Linked DNA regions of Homo sapiens: region 2 is linked to region 1. A link means that fine-mapping ties the variant in region 1 to the plasma level of a protein whose gene starts in the linked region. Region 1 holds a variant in brackets. A gene starts in the other region. All regions are shown on one strand. Distances are from middle to middle.

Region 1 (12,820 bases):
CTTCATTTTTGTTGTTTGGGTTTGCGGCAGGGCACAAAGAGGGTGAGGTAGAATGCCGTAGTGGCTCCCTCCGGTTCTTCGCCACTCTCTTGGGCTGGGGGAACGAGGCCCTTTCGGGGACCCGTAGCAGACTGGTGGGTGTTAGAGGAAGCGGGGAGACGGCGCGTGCACTGTGTTCCTGGTCCTGGGTTCCAGAGGATGACACTGAGCCTGTCGCAGCCACGTTGGGGTTCCGCACTGAAGCCAAAAGGTTTCGCGTCTCCCAGCGTCCCCGACCGGAAGTCGCCTCTTGGTCTTTGCGATCTTTTTCTCTGGCTCAATTTGGGCTGATTCCGTTTGTGTCCGCAATTCCTAAATCGAGTTTCTTGAAAAGAGACACTGGTCTTAAGGGTTAAGACGAAAGGTACTGAAAGTAAGGGATTTCAAGTTCTGGTCTTGGTGCTTCTAACCTGTGGACACATTCTGCATCTAAGTTTTCTAATTCGCAAAACAGTAATAAAAAATAATGGTTGTACGGACTTCTGACCGCTCAGTATTTGGCAAAAAACCTAATAGGTGTGAGGTAGTTTCAAATTCTCAAAAAAAAAGTTTATAGTGTATTGGGGAGACAAACCCCAAATGAGTCATAGTGAAGGTTGGAGTAGAATGGGTAGAGTTTGAGAGGAAGGCCTGTATCTTACCGGGGGAGGGATTGTAGTCTGGGGAGCCCAGCCCATTCATGTACAGGTTCATTATTGTCTTGTTAGAGAGATGACTGGTGAAATGCCTTTTTTTATCTACAAAAAAATATTTTTAGATGGCGGGTGAAAAAGTTGAGAAGCCAGATACTAAAGAGAAGAAACCCGAAGCCAAGAAGGTTGATGCTGGTGGCAAGGTGAAAAAGGGTAACCTCAAAGCTAAAAAGCCCAAGAAGGGGAAGCCCCATTGCAGCCGCAACCCTGTCCTTGTCAGAGGAATTGGCAGGTATTCCCGATCTGCCATGTATTCCAGAAAGGCCATGTACAAGAGGAAGTACTCAGCCGCTAAATCCAAGGTAAGGGAAGAGGACCACGGACCATTATGTCTTAACCTTAATTGGCATTCTCTTACTGTTGATGCATTTGTGTCCTTGTAGGTTGAAAAGAAAAAGAAGGAGAAGGTTCTCGCAACTGTTACAAAACCAGTTGGTGGTGACAAGAACGGCGGTACCCGGGTGGTTAAACTTCGCAAAATGGTAAGATGTGGGGACTGTAAATTGGATTTTCTGTTTATGCTTGAATACTGTGAAGATGTTTTTGAATACTTAGATACTGTAAGTTTCTGCATACCGGAGAATTTCTGATAGAAAATAAAGGGCTCTGGGTTTGTAACTTGGCTTCAACATTTACTGTTAATCTTAAGTAATTTAAATTACTCGTCTGTGCTTTGTTCCTTTGCATATAATATGGGAATGAGGCTGAGTGTGGTGGCTAATGCCTGTAATCCCAGCACTTTGGGAGGCTGAGGCGAGCAGATCACCTGAGGTCAGGAGTTCAAGACCAGCCTGGCCAACATGGTGAAACCACATCTCTAGTAAAAATATACAAATTAGCTGGTTGCGTGCCTGTAGTCCCAGCTGCTCTGGAGGCTGAGGCAGAAGAATCGCTTGAACCCGGGAGGCAGAGATTGCACTACTGCACTCCAGCCTGGGCGACAGAGGGAGGCTTCATCTCAAAAAAAGATAAGATGGGAATGAGGGTTTACCTCAAAGAGTTTTTATGGAGATTAAATGAAATAATACATAGCCTGTTCTATAGAACATTTCCCACTAGAGCAGTGTTTCTTGGCCCCCTTTACCACACACAAGACCCAATGTAATCTCAGGATTTGCTCTGTAATTTTCATTATGGGAACATTCCCAAATAAGTTAACACCATACAGTTTCACAGTTGAAGATTACTGCATGAGAGGGAAGATGACAGTTGTTTTGTGAACTCGTTTTCCCATTAGGTGATCATGTTTGTGGTGAAAGTGAGACTGCACTAATGATATGGTATAGTTGGAAATAGGTTATTGTGAGTTATTTGTAGTCATGTCTTTAATGGCCCTTGCATGGTGTCTAACTTCTGCAATAAATGATCTGCCAGTCCTAGTGTCTGGCTTTATGCAATTTGTTTTCCTTTGTGGATGAAGTGGGAGTAAGACTTGTTGCTGTGAGGATCAGATGAAGTGGCTAGGATATGGACACACTTTACTTGAATTGGAAAACAAGCCATGTATCCCTAATCTGCAAAATGTGGCATGTCACACGTGTAATCTCTGAGGTTTAGTTTTTGCTCAAGATTGCAAAGGTGACTTGCTTGATGCTTTCTTTGCTTGAGCACACATCTCATTCATTAAATGGTGTCTCCTTTTTTGCACACAGGATGCAGAAGCATAATTGACCTTTTCCAAGTCTACTTAGCAGAAATGAAAATGGAATCATATAAATACAGTATTATACTTTAAAATAAAAAGGCTGTAGCAAAAGTTTGGCTGACATAGCTTGCTTCTAGTAATCTGAATGGCTTATTTAAATAAGTTGGATCTATGGACTCTCCACAGCCTAGATATTATCCTACTGAAGATGTGCCTCGAAAGCTGTTGAGCCACGGCAAAAAACCCTTCAGTCAGCACGTGAGAAAACTGCGAGCCAGCATTACCCCCGGGACCATTCTGATCATCCTCACTGGACGCCACAGGGGCAAGGTGAGAGTACCTGTGCTTGGGGCGCTTCACTGCAGCTGCCTGGGGTGCCTGGTGGCAATGCGTTTGCACGCTAGGTGTACTTTTCCTTTATTTACCTATGTTTGGGGCAAGGGGAAATGATCTGCAAGATACAACTTAGTTGTTGCAAATAAGAAGTGTAATCCATGGTGATTTATTAGCCATTTCCTGCTGTTGATTATGTTACACATGTTCATTTACTCAAAAACGTGTTTATGTCTGGAGTACTACCTTAGTAGCTTGCTGTGGTTGCTTCCAGAACTGCCGAGCTGTATACATATACATGTAGAAATTTCCTTTACCCAAATTTAGATGCCTGTGATTTTATGAATTCAGAAGTCAGTTTTTAATTGCAGAAAACTAATTATTTTCTTTTTAACTTACAGAGGGTGGTTTTCCTGAAGCAGCTGGCTAGTGGCTTATTACTTGTGACTGGTAAGAAAATCCTTGGATTGTGATGTTCTGTGAAACTTCCATTTTTAAATGCTTGCAGTATACACGTTTGTTTGCTACTGCCTACATGGTAGACACTTATTGCCACAAGTGTCTGAGGCCCATTTCATTGCCTTGTGTGCAAGTGGGTTAGACAAGTGGTCTTCTTTGTGTAGCAACATAACAAGTAATGGTCACCTAAATTGCAGGATGATGATTCTTCCCCCTTTTCCTTGCTAAATTAATTTTTCCCCCTTAGGACCTCTGGTCCTCAATCGAGTTCCTCTACGAAGAACACACCAGAAATTTGTCATTGCCACTTCAACCAAAATCGATATCAGCAATGTAAAAATCCCAAAACATCTTACTGATGCTTACTTCAAGAAGAAGAAGCTGCGGAAGCCCAGACACCAGGAAGGTGAGATCTTCGACACAGAAAAAGAGGTAAGTTTCTACTTGTCATCTCCTGTGTTAGCACTGGCCCTTCTACCTGGGAGTGAAAAGAAACAGGTTGCACAAAAAGAAGAAAAATGAAAGGTTAAATAATGAGGAATGCTGGGAGATACTTAGTATTCCAGATTCTTCTAAATTGAGTAGTTCTTTTGGCAGTCTGGGAGCTCAACTTAGAATCCTAAAGTTTGGTGGAATTGTGTGGGAATTAACTGCTACCATCGTATTGGGAATGTGCCCTTACTTATCCTTGATGTGTCCTAAAGTATACAAAAGCTTAAGAGCTACTTTTATTACATTAAAAAATGGGTTGTGTTTCACAGCATTCCAAGGAAAGGATTGTCAAAATTGTCTTTAATGTTTTCTAAATATTCTTGGGGATTAGTACTTGTGAGACAGGACTCCTTAGTTGACCTACAAGTAATTTGGTATGTGCCTGTTTTAAAATGTTTGATTTTCTCTTTATTTAGAAATATGAGATTACGGAGCAGCGCAAGATTGATCAGAAAGCTGTGGACTCACAAATTTTACCAAAAATCAAAGCTATTCCTCAGCTCCAGGGCTACCTGCGATCTGTGTTTGCTCTGACGAATGGAATTTATCCTCACAAATTGGTGTTCTAAATGTCTTAAGAACCTAATTAAATAGCTGACTACATTTTGTGTCTCTTTTTTTAATTTTTGGTTTTTAAAAAAAATTCTTACCTACCTGAAGGTGTAGTTTGACCATGCCAGCTCACCTGGGGGTTTTCCTTAGTAGAGAATGGGATTGGAAGGGAGTGGTGTCTACAAGAGAGCTAGTTTGTTGGCTTTGCATTGCTGTTCTTGGCTTCAGATTGGTTCTTGGTGCCTGGCTAATAACTTTTTCACCCACCCTCTACCATTGTGAAGTGGTGGCATTTTCTCACTCGTCCCTGAAGAAGTCAGTGCTAAACTGTACATGGATGAGAGAAGAGAATAACTGCTGACTACTCAGACAACAAACTCCCATTTCTCCCCGCTGTGCTCAATTCTCAACTCCTCCCCAATAATTATGAGGCCGTGCTCTTGTTTCCCAGGCCAGTGCAGTGGCTGTTCATGGGCACGTTTATCACATATGGCCCCAGTTCCTATTGCCTGGGCTGGTTCAACTCCTGGGCTCTAGCTATCCTCCTGCCTAGACCTCAAGGTATTGGGATTATAGGCATAAGCCACCACACCCTGCCAGATTTGTGCATTTTAATTTTGGCAGATTCTTCCAAACACTCCCAAGTGTTAGACCACTTTATTTGTTCTGGAAATGTACAGAGTACCCATCTTCTTATAGGTAGGTTATCAAACTTGGATTTTTGCCAATGGAAAATGAAAAATGGGCTGTGTGTGCTGGCTTCCACCTGAAACCCCCACATTTTGGGAGGTGGGGCCAGGAGGCTCACTTGAGCCTAGGAGGTCCAGGCTGTGGTGACCTGTGATTTCACCACTGCACACCATCCTGGATGACAGACCCTGTGTCCAAAAAAGGTGAAAAAAGGCTGGGTGCCATGGCTCAACCTGTAATCCCAGCCCTTTGGGAGGCCGAAGTGGGCTGATCAGCTGAGGTCAGGATTTTGAAACCAGCCTGGCGAACATGGTGAAACCCCATCTCCACTAAAAATACAAAAAAAAATTAGCTGGACATGGTGGCAGGTATCTATAATCCCAGCTACTCGGGAGGCTGAGGCAGGAGAATTTGGACGGGAGGCAGAGGTTGCAGTAAGTGACATCACACCACTGCACTCCAGCCTGGGCGACAGAGCAAGACTGTCTCAAAAAAAAAAAGTTGCTAGAATATTTTAAAATGACATGTCATGTTTATATAAGTAACATTTTTATTAAAAAAAAAAACTTGAGCCAGGCACAGTGGCTCACACCTGTAATGTGTGCACTCCAGCCTGGGCAACAAGAGCAAAACTCTGTCTCAAAAAATAAATAAGCCCAGCCTGCGTGTACCTGTGGTTCCAGCTACTTGAGAGGCTGAGATGGGAGGATGGCTTGAGCCTGGGAGTTCGAGTCTTCAGTGAGCTGTGATTGCACCACTGCACTCCAGCCTGGGCAACAGAGCAAGACCCTGTCTCTAAAAAAATAATTTTTCCAAAACAAAAAATTATGAGGACAATGGTTTTACATTTCTGCAAATGTATTTCATGTCTGGCTTCGTAGGAGACAGATTCTTATATCTGCTTTATTCAATCTATTGCAGTATCACATTATGTATTACACCTCAGGAGAACTCCATTCTACACTCGAGTTAAAAGGACAATGTCTTAACAGTAGTATGACAAATTGTTTTAACTTCACAGGTCCCTTTTTAAGGATCTCAGGAACATCTAAAGATCCCTAGATCCGGCCGGGCGCGGTGGCTCACGCCTGTAATCCCAGCACTTTGGGAGGACGAGGCGGGCGGATCACGAGGTCAGGAGATCGAGACCATCCCGGCTAAAACGGTGAAACCCCGTCTCTACTAAAGATACAAAAAATTAGCCGGGCGTAGTGGCGGGCGCCTGTAGTCCCAGCTACTTGGGAGGCTGAGGCAGGAGAATGGCGTGAACCCGGGAGGCGGAGCTTGCAGTGAGCCGAGATCCCACCACTGCACTCCAGCCTGGGCGACAGAGCGAGACTCCGTCTCAAAAAAAAAAAAAAAAAAAAAAAAAAAGATCCCTAGATCCTACTTTGAGAATCATTGCACTAGCCTCTGCATTGTTTCAAAGATTTGGGATCAAACAGATTCTGCCCCTTTTGACCAATAGAATGTGGCATAAGTGATGTGGAGTCTTGCTCTGTCGCCCAGGCTGGAGTGCAGTGGTGCCATCTCGGCTCACTGCAACCTCTGCCTCCCAAGTTCAAGTGATTCTTCTGCCTCAGCCTCC[T/C]GCATAGCTGGGATTACAGGCGCCTGCCACTCTGCCCAACTAATTTTTTTTTTTTTGTATTTTTGTATTTTTAGTAGAGAGAGGGTTTCACCATGTTGGCCAGGCTGGTCTGGAACTCCTGACCTCAAGTGATCCTCCTGCCTCAGCCTCCCAAAGTGCTGGGATTACAGACGTGAGCCACCATGCCTGGCATGTGTCTTTATTTTCTTTTACTTACCCACATGAGCTAACTTTCTAAAAGCACATATACTGCTTTTATAACAAAAGATTATTGTTATCTTAAAAAGCAAATTGCAGAAAATTATGTAAAATATCACTTTTAAAAAAGTATACGTGGGAGTGTATATTCATGGCAACTTGAATCTATGCTCCCAGGGAGAATAAAGAAAAGAAAAAAATATATAAGCTTAGTTTTACAACTATATAAATGTGTGCATAAATACAAAAGTTAAAAAGGAATACGATTTACACATGAACTGAAAACATGTCTACACAAAACCTGTACATAATTGTGTATAGCAGCATTATTCATAATTACCAAAACTTGGGAGCAATAAAGATGTCCTTCAACGAGTGAATGGATAACCTTGTGGTACATCCATACAATGGGACATCATTTAGTGATAAAAAGAAATGAGCTATCAAGCAACAACATACGTGGAGGAACTTTAAATACATATTGCTAAGGGAAAGAAGCCCATGTGGAAAGGGCTTCTTTCATATACTGTATCATATTATATACTCTATGATTCCAGGTATTTGACATTGTGGAAAAGGCAAAACTAAGGAGACAGCAAAGAGATCAAAGGTTGCACGTGGGTGGTGGGTGGAGAGGGAGAGATGGACGGGTGGACCACAGGATTTCTAGGACCAGGAATCTATTCTGTATGGTGCTAGAATGGTGGATATATGTCATTATCCATTTGTCAAAACCCATAGAATGTGCAACACAAAGAGCGAACCCTGGCCAGGTGTGGTGGCTCATGACAAAAACAACAAAAAGTGAACCCAAATGCAAACTATAGACTTTGGTTAATAATATATCAATATTGGTTCATCAGTTATAACAAATATACCACACTCATGCAAGTTTTTTTTTTTTTTTTTTTTTTTTTTTTTTTTAGATGGAGTCTCGCTCTGTCACCCAGGCTGGAGTGCAGTGGTGTGATCTCGGCTCACTGCAAGCTCCGCCTCCCAGGTTCATGCCATTCTCCTGCCTCAGCCTCCCGAGTAGCTGGGAATACAGGCGCCCGCCACCATACCCGGCTAATTTTTTGTATTTTTAGTAGGGACAGAGTTTCACCATGTTAGCCAGGATGGTCTCGATCTCTTGACCTCGTGATCCGCCTGCCTCAGCCTCCCAAAGTGCTGAGATTACAGGAGTGAGCTACTGGGCCTGGATTTTTTTTTGTTTCTTGTTTTTTTGTTTGTTTTTTTTTTTTTTTTTTGAGATGAAGTCTCACTCTGTTGCCCAGGCTGAAGTGCAGTGGCGTGTTCCCAGCTCACTGCAACCTCTGCCTCCCAGGTTCAAGAGATTCTCCTGCCTTACATCCCAAGTAGCTGAGACTACAGGCACACACCACCACCACCACACCCGGCTAATTTTTGTATATTTAGTAGACAGGGGTTTTCAACATGTTGGCCAGGCTGGTCTCAAACTCCTGACCTCAAGTGATCCACCCGCCTTGGCCCCCCAAATTGCTGGGATTACAGGCGTGAGCCACTGTGACCAGCTCTTACAGGTAGTTTCTAAGAGCACCTCCCCAGGTAAATCAGTTGCCCAAGAATCGCCATGTCAGGCTGCAGTTACAGGCAGTCTGGCCTTAGACGCCAACCACTTTACCTATCCTTTAAATGTCAGGTGACATTTTGTGTTATGGTGTCTTTATTCATTTATTTTTTTTGAGACGGAGTCTTGCTCTGTCATCCAGGCTGGAGTGCCATGGCACCATCTCAGCTCACTGCAACTCCATCTCCTGGGTTCAAGCGATTCCCCTGCCGCAGCCTCCCAAGTAGATGGGATTACAGGCATGAGCAACCATGCCCAGCTAATTTTTTGTATTTTTAGTAGAGATGGGGTTTCACCATGTTGGTCAGGCTGGTCTCAAACTCCTGACCTCAAGTGATCCACCCGTCTTGGCCTCCCAAAGTGCTAGGATTACGGGCGTGAGCCACCGTGCCCAGCCTGTTATGATGTCTTAAAGGATCAAATAATATTAGCTAATACTGACTGGGTGCAGTGGCTTACGCCTGTAATCCCAGACCTTTGGGAGGCCAAGATGGGAAGATCACTTGAACCCAGGAGTTCAAGACCAGCCCAGGCAACATGATGAGATCCTGTCTATACAAAAAAAAAAAAAAAAAAAAGAAAGAAATTAGCTGGGCGCCTGTGGTCCCAGCTACTCGGGAGGCTGAGGTTGGAGAATCGCTTGAGCCCAGGAGGCAGAGTTTGCAGTGAGCCATGATCATGCCACTGCACTCCAGCCTGGGCAACAGAGCAAGACCCTGTCTCAAAAAAAAAAAAAAGATGAAGAGTAGTAGCAACTATGAGTTTCAGCCTGTTAAACTCAAGACGTGCCAGAAATAATGAATTTTTCAGTTTTTATTTATTTTTTATTTTGGGACAGGATGTCACTCTGTCACCCAGGCTGGAGTGCAGTGGCATCATCACCACTGCTCACTGCATCCTGGACTGCCCTGGCTCAAGTGATCCTTCAGCTTTAGCCTCCTGAGTAGCTGGGACTACAGGTGCTTGCCACCATGCCCAGCTCGTTTTTGTTGTTGCTGTTTGTTTGTCTTTCTGGGTTTTTATTTGTTTTTGCAGAGACAGGGTCTCACCATGTTACCCAGGCTGGTCTTGAACTCCTGGGCTCAAGCAATCCTCCCATGTCGGCTTCCCAAAGTGCTGGAATTATAGGCATGAACCACTGTGCCTGCCCCAGTTTTTAGAAGTCGACTTGCTTCTGACTTTTAAAACCCTGTAGATTAAACTTTAGGTATTCTTAATTTTTTTTTGTCTTTTGGAGACAGTCTCACTCTGTTACCCAGGCTGGAGTGTAGTGGCACCATCTCAGCTCACAGCAACCTCCCCCTTCCGGGTTCAAATGATTCTTGTGCCTTAGCCTCCCGAGTAGCTGGGATCACAGGCACCAGCCACCAAGCCTGGCTAATTTTTTTTTTTTTTTTTTTGAGACAGAGTCTCGCTCTGTTACCCAGGCTGGAGTGCAGTGGTGCAATCTCAGCTCACCACAACCTCTGCCTCCTGGGTTCAAGCAATTCTCCTGCCTCAGCCTCCCAAGTAGCTGGGACTACAGGCATGCACCACCATGCCTGGCTAATTTTTGTATTTTTAGTAGAGACAGGGTTTTACTATGTTGGCCAGGCTGGTCTTGAACTCCTGACCTCGTGATAAGCCTGGCTAATTTTTGTATTTTTAGTAGAGATGGGGTTTCTCCATGTTGGCCAGGCTGGTCTCGAACTCTTGGCCTCAAGTGACCTGCCTGCCTTGGCCTTCCCAAGTACTGGGATTACAGGCGTGCGCCACCGCACCCGGCCTACATTCGGTATTCTTAGGGCTTGAGGTAGATCATATTATTCAAAAGATGGCAACAATATCTCCCACCCAATTTGGTATTCTTTTTTTATTTTTATTTTTTATATATTTTTATTATTATTATTACTATTATTATTATTATTATTATTATTATTTGAGACGGAGTCTTGCTCTGTTGCCCAGGCTGGAGTGCGGTGATGCGATCTCGGCTCACTGCAAGCTCCGCCTCCTGGGTTCACGCCATTCTCCTGCCTCAGCCTCCCTAGTAGCTGGGACTACAGGCGCCCGCCACCACGCCCGGCTAATTTTTTGTATTTTTAGTAGAGACGGCGTTTCACCATGTTAGCCAGGATGGTCTCGATCTGACCTTTTGATCCGCCCGTCTCGGCCTCCCAAAGTGCTGGGATTACAGGCGTGAGCCACTGAGCCTGGCCTATATTTTTGTTTTTTATTATACTTTAAGTTCTGAGATACATGTGCAGAACTTGCAGGTTTCTTACATAGGTACACATGTGCCATAGTGGTTTGCTGCACACATCAACCCATCTTCTAGGTTTTAAGCCCCACATGCATTAGTTATTTGTCCTAATGCTATCCCTCCCCTTGCCCTCAACTCCCTGACAGGCCCCAGTGTTTGATGTTCCCCTCCCTCCTGTGTCCATGTGTTCTTTTTTTTTTTTTTTTTGTTGAGACCGAGTCTCCCTCTGTCGCCCAGGCTGGAGTGCAGTGGCGCAATCTCGGCTCACTGCAACCTCCGCCTCCTGGGTTCACGACATTCTCCTGCCTCAGCCTCCCGAGTAGCTGGGACTATAGGCGCCCGCTACCACGCCCGGCTAATTTTTTGTATTTGTGGTAGAGATGGGGTTTCACCGTGTTAGCCAGGATGGTCTCAATCTCCTGACCTCGTGATCTGCCCGCCTCAGCCTTCCAAAGTGCTGGGATTACAGGCGTGAGCCACTGCGCCTGGCCCTGTCCATGTGTTCTCATTGTTCAGCTCCCACTTATGAGTGAGAACATGTGGTGTTTGGTTTTCTGTTCCTGTGTTAGTTTGCTGAGAATGATGGTTTCCAGCTTCATCCATGTCCCTACAAAGGACATGAACTCATTCTTTTTTATGGCTGCATAGTATTCCATGGTGTATATGTGCCACATTTTCTTTATCCAGTCTATCATTGAAGGGCATCTGGGTTGGTGCCAAGTCCTTGCTATTGTGAATAGTGCTGCAATAAACATACGTGTGCATGTGTCTTTATAGTAGAATGATATATAATCCTCTGGGTATATACCCAGTAATGGGATTGCTGGGTCAAATGGTATTTCTGGTTCTAGAATCTTGAGGAATCGCCACACTGTCTTCCACAATGGTTCAACTAATTTACACTCCCACCAACAGTGTAAAAGCATTCCTATTTCTCCACATCCTCTTCAGCATCTGTTGTTTCCTGATTTTTTAATGATCATCATTCTAACTGGCATGGGATGATTACCTCATTGTAGTTTTGATTCGCATTTCTCTAATGACCAGTGATGATGAGCTTTTTTTCATAAGTTTGTTGGCTGCATAAATGTCTTCTTTTGAGAACTGTCTGTTCATATCCTTCACTCACTTTTTGATGGGATTGTTTATTTTTTTCTTGTAAATTTGTTTAAGTTCCTTGTAGATTCTGGACATTAAAGCTTTGTCAGCCGGGCACGGTGGCTCACGCCTGTAATCCCAGCAGTTTGGGAGGCTGATGTGGGCGGATCACGAGGTCAGGAGATCGAGACCATCCTGGCTAACACGGTGAAACCCCATCTCTACTAAAAGTACAAAAAATTAGCCGGGCGTGGTGGCGGGGGCCTGTAGTCCCAGCTACTCGGGAGGCTGAGGCAGGAGAATAGCGTGAACCCGGCGGGTGGAGCTTGCAATGAGCAGAGATCGCGCCACTGCACTCTAGCCTGGGTGACAGAGCGAGACTCCGTCTCAAAAAAAAAAAGCTTTGTCAGATGTACAGATTGCAAAAATTTTCTCCCATTCTGTAGGTTGCCTATTCACTCTGATGATAGTTTCTTTTGCTGTGCAGAAGCTCTTTAGTTTAATTAGATCCCATTTGTCAATTTTGGCTTGAGAATGGCGTGAACCCGGGAGGCGGAGGTTGCAGTGAGCTGAGATCGCACCACTGCACTCCAGCCTGGGCAACAGAGCGAGATTCTGTCTCAAAAAAAAAAAAAAAAAAATTTCCCTCCAAACACTTCTTTAGCTGTGTCCCAGAGATTCTGGTACATTGTGTTTTTGTTCTCATTGGTTTCAAAGAACTTATTTATTTCTGCCTTAATTTTGTTATTTACCCAGTAATCATACAGGAGCAGGTTGTTCAGTTTCCATGTAGTTGTGTGGTTTTGAGTGAGTTTCTTAATCCTGAGTTCTAATTTGATTGCACTGTGTTCTGAGAGACTGTTATGATTTCCATTCTTTTTCATTTGCTGAGGAGTGTTTTACTTCTAATTATGTGGTCAATTTTAGAATAAGTGCTATGTGGTGCTGAGAAGAATGTATATTCTGTTGATTTTGGGTGGAAAGTTCTGTAGATGTCTATTAGGTCCACTTGGTTCAGAGCTGAGTTCAAGTCCTGAATATCCTTGTTAATTTTCTTTCTCATTGATCTGTCTAATATTGACAATGGGGTGTTAAAGTCTCCCACTATTATTGTGTGAGAGTCTAAGTATCTTTGTAGATCTCTAAGAATTTGCATTATGAATCTGTGTGCTCCTGTACTGGGTGCATATATATTTAGGAG
Region 2 (12,820 bases), 100 Mb after region 1:
GAGGGTATGCTTGAAGTAGCAAATTAAAATGTTGATTGCTGGTGTATAAACTTTATTTTGAGTCAACTTGGTGAAAAGCATAAAGTTTTTGAGAAGTTGAATTAAAAATTAGTATTAAAGGCTGGGCGCGGTGGCTCATGCCTATAATCCCAACACTTTGGAAGACTCAGGTGGGTGGATCACCTGAGGTCAGGAGTTCAAGACCAGCCTGGCCAACATGGTAAAACCCCATCTCTACTAAAAACGCAAAAAATTAGCCAGGCATGGTGGCGGGCACCTATAATCTCAGCTACTCAGGAGGCTGAGGCAGGAGAATTGCTTGAACCTGGGAGGCAGAGGTTGCAGTGAGCCGAGATCATGCCATTGCACTCCAGCCTGGGCAACAACAGTGAAACTCCGTCTCAAAAAAAAAAAATAGCATTAAAACACCATATTCTATGAATGATAAGGAGGTGAATGGCAGCAAATATTCACTAATTTGAAATTATTAATTTTAATTGAGTATGCATATTTCCTCAGAGAATGTCCTTAAGAAATTATATCAGACAAAATATTACAAGTAAGTGTTAGTTCCACATTGATAAATGGGAGAGAGAGAGATTATCTCATAGTAAATTTGTAAGATTAAATGAAGGAACATAGATAAAACATTCTGTATAGTGCCGGAAACTGGTGTTTCTTAAATGGTAAGAGAGGTTGTTATTTTTAAATCATTATTAATATTGAAAGAGAGGACAGGTGAGAGAGATACAGAGACGGAGAAAGAAAAGCACCCAAATACTGAAACAGTCCAATAACACAATGGAACAGGATACGGGAAACTACCATGTTAATTCACACCAATTGAAAAAATGAAATTAAATTCCATACCTTTAAATGTAAGTTGAGATGTTTGGGCAGAACTCCTTTTCTTTGACTGTACATTCAATGTCATGTATCTTTCTTCATCTTGCATCTTCAATGTGAGTGAATGTGTGTGTATACAGGTATGTTTTGTTTTATTAAGTATAACATGAAATGAGGAAAGAATAATAAATCTGCTGCTAATCAGAGATGCTCCTCAAATTGTCCTTTCACAGTACATATGAGGGTTCACAGTTTCACTTATTTGTGAAAACCTCAGAGGAAATGTTTTCTTTTTAAAAGTTGCTTTCCCATGACATAGATAACACATAATTTCTCAACTGTCCACCACATATTGAATTGAATATTCTTTTGAGTGCTTTACAAATTTCTCTTAATTTACCCTTAAAGTCAAGGGAATGGAAATTATGCCCCTTTTTGAGGTGAGGTTAATAATATATAGCTGCCTTTTGTTATAGCCTAAATATTTATATCATTTGAATTAGCCTCCCTAACATATTGATATTTAATTTAATAATTTGCAATTGCCAAGCAATTAAATTCTTTATCCTAAAACAATATTGTTTATAAATCATGCTAATAATTTAACAGTATAATTTGATTTTTTTTAACTTTTAGGTTCAGGGCTACATGTGTAGGTTTGTTATATAGGTAAAATCATGTCACAGGGGTTTGTTGTACATATTATTTCATCACCCAGGTATTCAGACTAGTACTACATAGTTATGTTTTTCTGATCCTGCCCCTCCTCTCACCCTCCACCTTCAAGTAGGCTCCGGTGTCTGTCATTCTCCTCTATGTGTACATGTGTTCTCATCATTTAGATCCCAATTATTAGTGAGAACATGTGGTATTTGGTTTTCTGTTCCTCCATTAGTTTGTTAAGGGTAACGGCCTCTAGCTTCATCTATGTTCCTGCAATGGACATCATCTCATTCTTTTTTATAGCTGCATAGTATTCCTTTGTATATGTGTATCACATTTTCTTTATCCAGTCTACCATTGATGGGCATTTAGGTTGATTGCATGTCTTTGCTATTGTCAACAGTGCTGCCATGAACAGATGCATGCATGTGTCTTTATGATAGATTTATATTCCTTTGGGTATATACCAGTAATGGGATTGCTGGGTCAAATTTCTGGTTTTAGGTCTTTAAGGAATCACCATGCTATCTTTCATAATGGTTGAACTAATTTACACTCCCATCAAAGGTGTATAAGTGAACCCTTTTCTCCACTACCTCATCAGCATCTGTTATTTTTTGACTTTTTAATAATAGCCATTCGACTGGTATGAGATGGTATCTTACTGTGGTTTTAATTTGCATTTCCCTAATGATTAGTGCCTACTGGAGGATAGAGGGTGGGAAGAGGGAAAGGATCAGGAAAAATAACTAATGGGTACTAGGGTTAATACCTGGGTGAAGAAATAATCTTTACAGCAAACCCCCATTACACAAGTTTACCTATGTAACAAATTTGCACATGTACTCCCAAATTTAAAATAAAATTTTAAAAACACAATATACCCTTTTAAATAAGATAAACTATTAATTCAAGGAGAAAATATTTGACAAATTATCAGAAATATATTTGTTGCTTAATGACAAAAGTAAAAGGATAATACATTTTTGTGTTATTTTTGTTTATTTTTACTTGCTAAATTTTGTTCTTTAATTTATAATTACAATTTCTTTGGCCATTATTTGACACTCCAAATGGATAAGAAGTAAATTAAGATTGATAAATAAAACACGAAAAGTATCTGTTCATGTCCTTAGTCCACTTTTTAATGGGGTTGTTTATTTTTTGCTTGTTGATTGGTTTAAGTTTCTTACAGATGCTGGATATTAGACCTTTGTCAAATGCATAGTCTGCAAAAATTTTCTCCCATTCTGTAGATTATCTGTTCACTCTGTTGATAGTTTCTCTTGCTGTGCAGAAGCTCTTACAGTTAATTATTTTGTTTGTTTGTTTTGTTTTGTTTCACTTTTGTTGCAATTGCTTTTGGCATCTTTGTCATGAAATATTTGCCCATTCCTGTGTCCAGGATGGTAATTCCTAGGTTATCTTCCAGGGTTTTTTATATTTTGGGGTTTTAGACATAAGTATTTTATCCATCTTGAGTTGAGCTTTGTATATGGTATAAGGAAGGGGTCCACTTTCAATCTTCAGCATGTGGCTAGCCAGTTATCTCAGCACCATTTATTAAAAAGGGAATCCTTTTCCCATGGCTTGTTTTTGTCAGCTTTGCTGAAGATCAGATGGGTGTAGTTGTGCAGCACTATTTCTGGGCTTTCTGTCCAGTGGTCTATGTGTCTGCATTAGACCATTGTGTTCCAATGGTCTATGTGTCTGCTTTTTTTTTTTTTTTTACCAGTACCTTGTTATTTTGGATATTGTAGTACTGTAGTATAATTTGAAGTTGGGCAATGTGATGCCTCCAGTGTTGTTCTTTTTGCTTAGGATTGCCTTGGCTATTTGGGCTAATTTTTCTGTTCCAGATGAATTTTAAAATAGTTTTCTTCTAGTTCTGTGAAGAATGTCATTGGTAGTATGATAGGAATAGCATTAAATCTGTAAATTGCTTTGGGCAATATGACCATTTTAATGATATTTATTATTCTGATCCATGAGCATGGAATGTTTTTCATTTGTTTGTGTCATCTCTGATTTCTTTAAGCAATGTTTTGTAATTATCCTTGTAGAGCTCTTTCACCTCCCTGGTTGACTGTATTCCTATGTATTTTATTGTTTTTGTGGCTATCATAAATGGAATTGCATTCCTGATTTGGCTGTCAGCTTGGGTGTTGTGTATAGGTGTACAGGAATGTTGGTGATTTTTGTATGTTGATTTTGTATCCTGAAACTTTGCTGATGTTGTTTATCAGTTGAAGGAGCTTTTTGGCCAAGAGTATGGGGTTTTCTAGGTATATAATCATATGGTCTGAAAACAGGAATAGTTTTACGTCCTCTCTTCCTATTTGGATGCCCTTCATTTCTTTCTCTCACCTGATTGCTCTGGCAAGGATTTCCAATACTATGTTGAATAGGAATGTTGAGAGTGGGCATTCGTGTCTTGTGCTTTTCAAGGGGAATGCTTCCAGCTTTCACCTGTTCAGGATAATGTTGGCTGTGGGCTTATTACAGCTGGCTCTTATTATTTTGAGATGTTTCTGCAATACATAGTTTATTGAGTGATTTTAACATGAAAGCGTGTTGGTTTTATTGAAACCTCTTACTGTTTCTATTGAAATAATCATGTGATTTTTGTGTTTAGTTCTGTTTATGAAATGAGTCATATTTATTGAGTTGTGTATGTTGAACCAACCTTGCATCCCAGAGATAATGTCCACTTGATCATGGTGAATTAGCTCTTTGAGTGGTGCTGGATTCAGTTTGTCAGTATTTTGTTGAGAATTTTTGCATCTATGTTTTTCAAGGATGCCGGCCTCGAGTTTTCTTTTTTTTGTTGTGCTTCTGCCAGTTTTGGTATCAGGATGATGTTGGCCTCATAGAATGAGTTAGGGAGGAGTCCTTTCAACTCAAATTTTTGGAATAGTTTCCATGGGAATGGTACCAGCTCTGTACATCTGGCAGAATTTGGCTGTGAATCCATCTGAGCTTTTTTTGGTTGGTAGGCTATTTATTACTAATTCAATTTCAGAGCTCATTATTGGTCTGTTAAGGAAATCAATTTCCCCCTGGTTCGGTGTTGGGAGGCTGTATGTGTCCAGGAATTTATCTATATCTTCGAAGTTTTCTAGTTTGGTATACATAGAGGTGTTTGTAGTAGTCTTTGATGGTTATTTATATTTCATGGGGGTCAGTGGTACCATCCCCATTGTAGTTTCTAATTGTATTTATTTGAGTCTTCTCTCTTGTCTTCATTATTAGTCCAATGAGAGACTTTTTTTTTTTTCCAAAAAACCAACCCCTGGATTTGTTGATCTTTTTGATGTTTCTTTTGTATCTCAATCTCTTTCCGTTCAGCTCTGATTTTGGTTATATTTAGTCTTCTGCTACCTTTGAGGTTGGTTGGCTCTTACTTCTCCAGTTCTTTTAGTTATATGTTAGAGTGTTAAATTTGAGATCTTTCTAACTTTTTTGTGTAGGCGTTTAGCGCTATAAGTTTTTCTCTTAATACTGCCTTAGCTGTGTCTCAGAGATTCTGGTATGTCGTATCTTTGTTCTCATGAGTTTCAAAGAATGTTTCGATGTCTGCCTTAATTTCATTATTTATCCCCAAAGTCATTCAGGAGCATGTTGTTTAATTCCCATGTAATTGCATGGTTTTGAGTGATTTGTTTTGTCTTGATTTCTATTTTTATTGCGTTGTGGTCCAAGAATGTGTTTGGCATGATTTTGCTTTTTTTGTTTTTTGGTTTTTGAGTTTTTGTTTTTTTTTTTTGCATTTGCTAAGAATTGTTTTACATTCAATTGTGCGGTCAATTTTAGATTATGTGGCATGTGGCAATGAGAAGAATGTATATACTGGTTTTCTGGGTTCGGAGTACTGTAAAGGTCTATCAAATCCATTTGGTCCAATGTCAAGTTCAGGTTCTGAATATCTTTGTTAATTTGCTCCCTTGATGACCTGTCTGGAGTGTTAAAGTCTCCCACTATTATTTTGTAAATATTTAAGACTCTTTGTAGCTAAGAACTTGCTTTATGAATTTGGGTGCTCCTGTACTAGGTACATATATATTTGGGATAGTTAAGTCTTCTCGCTGAATTGAATTTATTATTATGTAATGTCCTTCTTTGTCTTTTTTCATCTTTATTGGTTTAAAGTCTGTTTTGTCTGAAATTAGGATTGCAAACCCTGTTTTTTTTTACTGATTTTCATTTGCTTGTTAGATTTTCCTCCATCCCTTTATTTCAAGCCTGTGTGTCATTGTGTGTGAGATGGTTCTACTGAAGATAGCATACCATTGAGCTTTGATTTTTTATCCAGCTTGCCACTCTGCACCTTTTAAATGGGGCAGCTAGTCTGTTTACATTCAAGGTTAGTATTCATATGTGTGGATTTGATCCTGTCATTGTATTGTTAGTTGGTTATTATGCCAGCTTGTATCTCCCCATCCCTTTCAGGGATGTCGATGATTTGTAGATTTGGCGCCTTTACATAATCCTATATTTCTCAAAGATTTTGTTCCTTCCTTTTCATTCTTTTTCCTTTGTTTTTGTCTGACTGTCTTATTTTAGAGGGCTAGTCTTCAAGTTCTTCAGCTTGGTCAATTCCACTGTCAATACTTGGAATTGTATTGTGAAATTCTTGTAATGTGTTTTCCAGCTCTAGCAGATCAGTTAGGTTCTTTTCTATAGTGGTTATTCTGTCTGTCAGCTTTTGTATTGTTTTAGTGTGATTCTTAGTTTTCTTGGATTGGGTTTTACCATTTTCCTGAATGCTGATGATCTTCATTTCTATCCATATTCGGAATTCTATTTCTGTCATTTCAGTCAGCTCTGCTGGTTTAAAACCCTTGTTGGATAACTAGCGCAGTCATTTGGAGGACATAAGAAACTCTGGCCATTTGAGTTGCTGGAGTTCTTGTGTTGCTTCTTTCTCTTCTCTGCATTTGAGTGTTTCTTTAGCCATGATGTAGATTGCATATAGTCAGTAGACTTCTTTTCTGGATGTATTCACAGGGTTGAGGCTTTGTGCAGGGTCTTTACTTGCAACTGACTTGTCTTTGGTCTCATAGTGGAGTGGGTGGTATGTTAGTGAAGTAGTTTGGTATTAAAGCTTTGGGATGTGATGCAGTAGGTTGTGCTTAGGCAGAGTGTTCAGTTGGTTGGCTCTTGATCAGTTGTGTGGCTCCCTTATATTTCTTCACAGTTGCAGCCATGCTGCCTCTCAATGCTCTGAAAGTTTGGGATCCTCTCCCACTTGAGTGTTGGCTGTAGATTATGGCTTGTCATTCCTGGGCTTTCCCCCACAGCTCTGGGGTGATCTCAGTGTTTATGTTTCCTCTCCAACTTGGAGGCAGCAGCAGAAGGGACCTTAGGAGTGGTTGTGGCTGAAGGTCTTTTATTTACCTCCTAGGGGCTCTACCCCAGAGAGGTGTGGGTCAGCAATTGCTCAGTGCAGTCTGCCCAGGATGGGGGTATCTGTGCTATGGGCCCAAACCAGGGTTTCTCTGCTTGGTGATGAGCAGGGGAAGTGTGCAGGACCTGTGGGAGATGAACTTTGCTCCTCTCCTTGGGTCGACTGTTGCTTGATGGGGGTATGGATAAGGTAGTTAGGGTCTTTGCTCCTTCATTAGTCTGAGGGTAGCAGGAGTAGTACCGCTGCAGAGGCAGTGGCAGATGGGCTTTTGGTTGCCCCTGGGGGTCTCATGTCTGAGGAATGCAGAGCTGCTGTTACTGGAAGTGTTCAGCCATGGGGGTGGGGCAGCTGCATTGCTGGCATGAGCTTGGTATTCCACTTTTTGGGGAGCAGAGGATTAAGAGTAATCAGGAGGAGAGAATGGTCTCCTCTCCCTATGGTGTCTGTGGCATGCTGTAAGCTTGAGTGTAGCCCTCAGGATCTTTGTTTCTTCCCCAGACTGAGGGTAGCAGGGATAGAACTGTTTCTATCCCTGTGGCAGAGGAGCTGTTGGATGCCTCTGGAAGCCTCTCCCCAGGGGAACTCTGAGCCACTACCAGTGGGTATGGTCAGCCATGTATGGGGCAACCATTCTGTGGTCATGAGCCAGGGGCCCTGCCTGGTGAAGAGTTAGGGGGTGTAAGTTCTCAGGGAAAAGGGGCTGGACTCTTTCTGTATGTTGACTGTGGTGTGCTGGAGGGGCCAGTGTGGTCACTAGGCCCTTTGTTCTTTCCCCAGCCCAACGGCCATTAGGCAGCACCGCTGCAACTGCAGTGGTGGAGGGGTTGTGGGTTGACTCTGTGATTTCCTCCTCAGAGAAATGCTGGGCTGCCTTTGATTGAAGTGGTAAGTTGGGGGCAGGGTGGTTGTGCTGCAGTACCATGTCCAGCGGCTGTGCCCAGGGAGGAGAAGTGAGGTCCAGCATGTGTGTGGAGAACAGTCCAGCCACTTATTCATGAGGTGGGTGCTCTGTGCTGAGGGCCAGATCAGCCCCTGGTCCCCACAGACTCTCCAGAGCCTGGAGACAGAGCGAGGGATGCAAGACGGCAAAGATGGCAACCTTCCCCTCCCACTGGGAACTCTGTCCAGGAAGTGGCAGAGCTGCTACTGGCTCGAGAGCCACAGCAGGGGGTGGCTGGAGGCCCAGGCTGAGAAGACCCGCCCAGCGAGGAGATACGGGATCAAGGTAACAGTCTGGTCATGTAACAATCTGGCCACCATTCTTGCAGGGCTGTTGCAGTATTCTGGGAGTCCACTCCAGTCCCTAGTTACCTCGGATTTTCCAGTACCTGAAGGTATCAACAGTGAAGGCTGTGAAACAGCAAAGATGGCAGCCTGCCTCTCCCACTGGGAGCTCCATCCCAGGGAGGTTCCAACATGTTGCTGGCCCAAACACACTGGTGAGGGTGGCTGGTGATCCCAGTTGGGTGGTCACACCCAGTGAGGAGAAACAGGATCAGTGACTGCTATAAAAAAGCACTCTGGCCACTTTCTTGTAAAGCAGCTGTGCTGTGTTGAGGGTCCAACCAGCCCCCTCATAACCTCAGACTCTCCAACGCCCAAAAGTGACAACAGTGAAGGCTGTGAAGCAGCACAAATGGCAGCCTGCCTTTCCCTCTGGGAGCTCCATCCTAGGGAGGTACAGACGTGTTGTCAACTGGAAAACACCCGGTGGTTGTAAATCTTGGTTTTGAGATTCCAGCCAGTAAAGAGAAACAGGGTCTGGGATTCACATGGAAAGGCAATCTGGCCACTTTTCTGTAGAGCTGCTGTGCTCTGCCAGGGGACCACTCCAGTCCCTAGTCGCCTCAGACTCCCTGAAGGCAACAATGGCTAAGGCTGTAAGACAGCAAGGATGGTGGGCTATCCTTGCCTCTGGAAACCCCATCCCAGAGGGGTACAGACCTGTTGCCAGCTCAAAAACACTTGTGGAGGTGGTTGTGGACCTCAGTGAGGAGATTTTGCTCAGTGAAGAGAAATGGGATCCAAGACCCACGTGAAAAAAACAGTCTGGCAGCCTCCCTGTAGAGCAGCTGTGCTATTTTGGGGGCTTCTCCAATCCTTAGTCACCTTGGATTTTGGCAACAATGGCTAAGGCTGCAAAACAGCAAAAATGATGTCCAGCCCCTCCTTCTGAGAGATTCATCTCAGGGGAGGTATAACCTTGCTACCAGTGGCTGGCTGGAGTTCCAAGCCAGAGGGTCTTATCCTGTGAGGTGCCATGGAAGCAGGGCCTGCGGACAATCCCTGCTCAGCCCCTTGGATTCAGCCCCTTTCCTAGGGATGTAGAGATGTCTAAATTCCCAGCCACTTTTGCTGGGAAGCCCTGGTATCTAAGGCTCCCAGGGCTCTGCGTGTGCCTGAGAGGCTACTCTTCCAGGACTCCCTGTAGCTCTGTGTGTCAGACTGCAGGCCTTTGTGGGATGGGTTCACAAGGGGATCTCCTGACCCAAGGGTTGCAAAGATCCATGGGAGAATTGTGCTCCCCCAGGTGCTCAGTCACTCACTGCTTCCCTGGGTGGGGAAGGCTCCCCTGGCTCCATGTTGCTCCCGGGTGGGCAGTCGTCCTGCCTTGCTTTACTTCATCCTCCACGGATTGAGTTGTTTTCTTGATGAATCCCAATGTGTGTAACTGGATGCTTCAGTTGAAGGTGCTGTATTTACTAGCCCCTTCTATTTCTCCTGTGAGAACAGCACACACTAGCTGCTTCTAGTTGGCTACCTGCACTTGCTCAATATTATAACTTGAAGAAGACAAAAAAATACTGACAATTTTTTTGGCATTCTAAGACTAATTCTAAATACAAAAATAAATAAATAAAAGCAAAATTTAGGGGGAAAACATTTTCATTTTGGCATGGACTATGCCTGGAACCAGGAGATTTACCAGCCAGTCACCTAAGGGCAGATTTATTACTTAAGTCTCTTTAATCTTGGACTAGATGCTGCTTGGTCTTCATAGGAACAATCACATATTTTAGGAACAGATTTGCCTTCTATGCCTACAGTGCTTCTACTAACATCAATACTTAAGAGTTACAGAATGTCTTATCCATTGTCATGGTTCCTCACACAATATTGTATTTGACATTTTACAACAAAGAAAGATTGACAATCAGTTCATGCCTATAGAAGTTACTTGCCCAGTTGCTCAGGATCTCACACACATTCCATGGGCAGTTGGAGGTGAGCTGCCGCTGGCCACACCAGAGGCTGCAAGACCAGACATGGACAGGTACAAAGAAGAGCTGTGCCACTTGCACAACCCAGAGGAGAATTGATACATCCTTAACGTTGATTCAAGCAGTGATGAGAACCACGGGTCTTCTATGGCCAGAAGAGCTCAGAAGAGACAGTCCAGCTCTATGGTAGTGATCAACTCTGACTCTGATGATGAATGCTACTCCTATGAGGAGAAGAAAGCTAAGATATTCTAAATAAGCAGTGACGATGAGAGTCTGGAGTGTTGTTATGTGCAGCCCACCATCCAGGAACCCTCCAATAGTTATTAGTGATGGTGATGATGACAATGATGACAGTAATGATTTGGAAGTTTCTGTGCCAGCAGAAGATTCGTATGATGAGGACCAAACTGCCTCAGATGAAGAAGAGCTGGATGAGGCTGCTGTCTGCCAGCATGATTCATCTGATGATGCTGGTTGAGCATGATCTTGGTGAGAATCTTAGTGAACCACCAGGTGATCCTGAGACTAAACTTGAGGTTTCAGAGAGGAAGCTGCCAACTGAGGAAGTGCCTGCACCTGTGGTGGAATAATCAAGGAAAAGGAAGGCAAAGACCAAAAAATATCATGGGGTGACTGAGGAAAAGACAGGCAAAGACCAAAAATATAGTGGAGCCACTGAGGAAGAGGAAGGCAAAGACCAAAAATGTATCTGTAACACCTGCTGGTAAGGGACAGAAAAACCGTGGACCTTCAAAGAAGAAACCCGGTGTGGCCAAAGTTGAAAAATGCAAGACTAGGACTCATAAGCGCAAAGTCCCTGGATGTTTCTTGCTTGACCTTGAAAAGTCAAAACAGTACTCTGGAAAAAAATCTCAAGCGAAATAAGGATGAACTGGTTCAGAGAATCTACGACCTGTTTAACAGCTCCGTCTGTGATAAAAAGCTACCAGAGAAACTAGAGATCAGCTAGAATAAAAAGATGCTGAGAACTGCTGGCTTATGCAGCACTGGCAGGAATTACAAAGCAAGGCAGAATTCTTAAGGTTATCTGAGAGTATATTCGTGTGAGCTAAATCCTTTACTGGTAAGAAGTGTTAGAAAAGTTTGTTTTTGTGAAATTAAGGATATTAGAATTTAGATACTGTTAAGTAATATTAGAATTTAACATTCATGTTATTAACCATGATTGACCTTAACAAGGGGCTCTATTGCTAACCATTCTGTGCCCTTGACAGGGTAGATCTGAAGCCCTTGGGATCTACCTTGGGTCTTACTTCAGCTCAATAGTTTTCACACGTAGGACAAAATGCAAAAGAAAAGTGAGTTTTCAATAGTGGCAGGTTGAGAGAAAGAAGAGAATGCTGGATGGGAGGCTGAGGCGGGCGGATCACGAGGTCAGCAGATCGAGACCACCCTGGCTAACACGGTGAAACCCCATCTCTAATAAAAATACAAAAGAAAAAAAAATATTAGCCGGGCATGGTGTTGGGCCCAGCTACTTGGAAGGCTGAGGCAGGAGAATGGCGTGAACCTGAGAGGCGGAGATTGCAGTGAGCCGAGATCGCGCCACTGCACTCCAGCCTGGGAGACAGAGTGAGACTCCGTCTCAAAAAAAAAAAAAAAAAAGAAGAGAATGCTGGAAAGAGGACAAGTTTTAGAGGCAACACTTAAAAACCAGGGCTACTGTGACATCTACCTAGACAGGAAAGATGAACATGTTTCATGAAGTTCATTGCTGATGACACTGAATGAAACTATCTGAGCCATGTAATCAAAAAATAGAATGTTTTCTGCATCTCAAAAAAAAAAAAAGAAGTTACTTGCCCCTAAGTAACTGGCTAACCAGGGTATTGAAATGACTTCCTGAAAGCACACTAATGACACCAGTTGGAATAAAACAGCTTGCAAGTGTGGGATTCAGTTTTTTAAGAGGGGGTATTTGCCTTACCAATATATGTTGCTGTCTCTGCCATAGCCAGAATGTACAGGTATGGGAACAAAAGCATAGAGTTAGGATTCAGATTTGGAGTAGCCTTGTACTAGTACACCTAATAATTCACTTGAAAATTGTCTCCTTTTCCCAAGATCTTGTTTGTGCTGGGTTTAGAGGTTCTAATGCCTATGGCAAGATTATTCTAATAAGGAATATGACCATTATCCTGATGAACAGGAAGATGAGACTTCCTTGTTGCACGTTGGGCTCCGCAGTCATTGAAGCAGCTGGCAGAGAAGAAGATTGCTGTGGCCAGGCGCAGTGGCTCACAGTTTAATCTCAGCACTTTGGGAGGCCGAGGCGGGCAGATCACCTGAGATCAGGAGTTCGAGACCAGCCTGACCAACCTGGAGAAACCCCATCTCTACTAAAAATACAAAATCAGCTAGGCGTGGTGGCGTGTGCCTGTAATCCCAGCTATTCAGGAGGCTGAAGCAGGAGAATCACTTGAATCCAGGAGGCGGAGGTTTCAGTGAGCTGAGATCACGCCATTGCACTCCAGCCTGGGCAACAAGAGTGAAACTCCATCTCAAAAGAAGAAGAATAAGAAGAGGAATAAGAAGCAGCAGCAGCCGCAGCAGCCATACAGGCAGAAATTGGGTTGCTCTTACACATTGTGGTAAGGACTATGCCTGGAAGCCAGGAGATTTACAGGAGCGTATTTTAGCACCACTTTCCTCATAGTCT

Which allele goes with the higher level. Positions count from the first base shown, and alleles are read on the strand shown. Strength reflects both the effect of a copy and how common the allele is.
With allele T in place of C in region 1, the plasma level of the protein whose gene starts at base 1,019 in region 2 is lower (moderate association).

Evidence for each region. A credible set is the group of variants that fine-mapping cannot tell apart. PIP is the chance, under the fine-mapping model, that this variant and not a neighbour inherited with it causes the effect. Protein levels are from antibody-based Olink assays in UK Biobank. Linkage for the fine-mapping came from a reference panel and not from the study's own genotypes, which makes the PIPs less certain.
Region 2: KLRF1 starts here. The variant in region 1 is the best candidate, but not a certain one, in a credible set for the plasma level of the KLRF1 protein (UK Biobank, PIP 0.75).

Annotation. Positions count from the first base shown.
Region 1 is chr12:112,396,633-112,409,452 of GRCh38, reverse strand. RPL6 (ribosomal protein L6) reads left to right here. Exons shown (of 7, transcript NM_000970.6): 2 at 797-1,033; 3 at 1,115-1,213; 4 at 2,563-2,706; 5 at 3,111-3,159; 6 at 3,416-3,600; 7 at 4,077-4,264. The coding sequence starts at 797. The coding sequence ends at 4,229. Among named protein-coding and RNA genes, the nearest start is that of RPL6, 6.6 kb to the left of the region's middle. RefSeq lists an enhancer at 38-217. The variant T/C (reference allele first, on the strand shown) is at 6,491.
Region 2 is chr12:9,815,680-9,828,499 of GRCh38, reverse strand. It overlaps KLRF1 (killer cell lectin like receptor F1), which reads right to left and starts at 1,019. Exons shown (of 6, transcript NM_016523.3): 1 at 871-1,019. The coding sequence starts at 955. It also overlaps the pseudogene GCNAP1.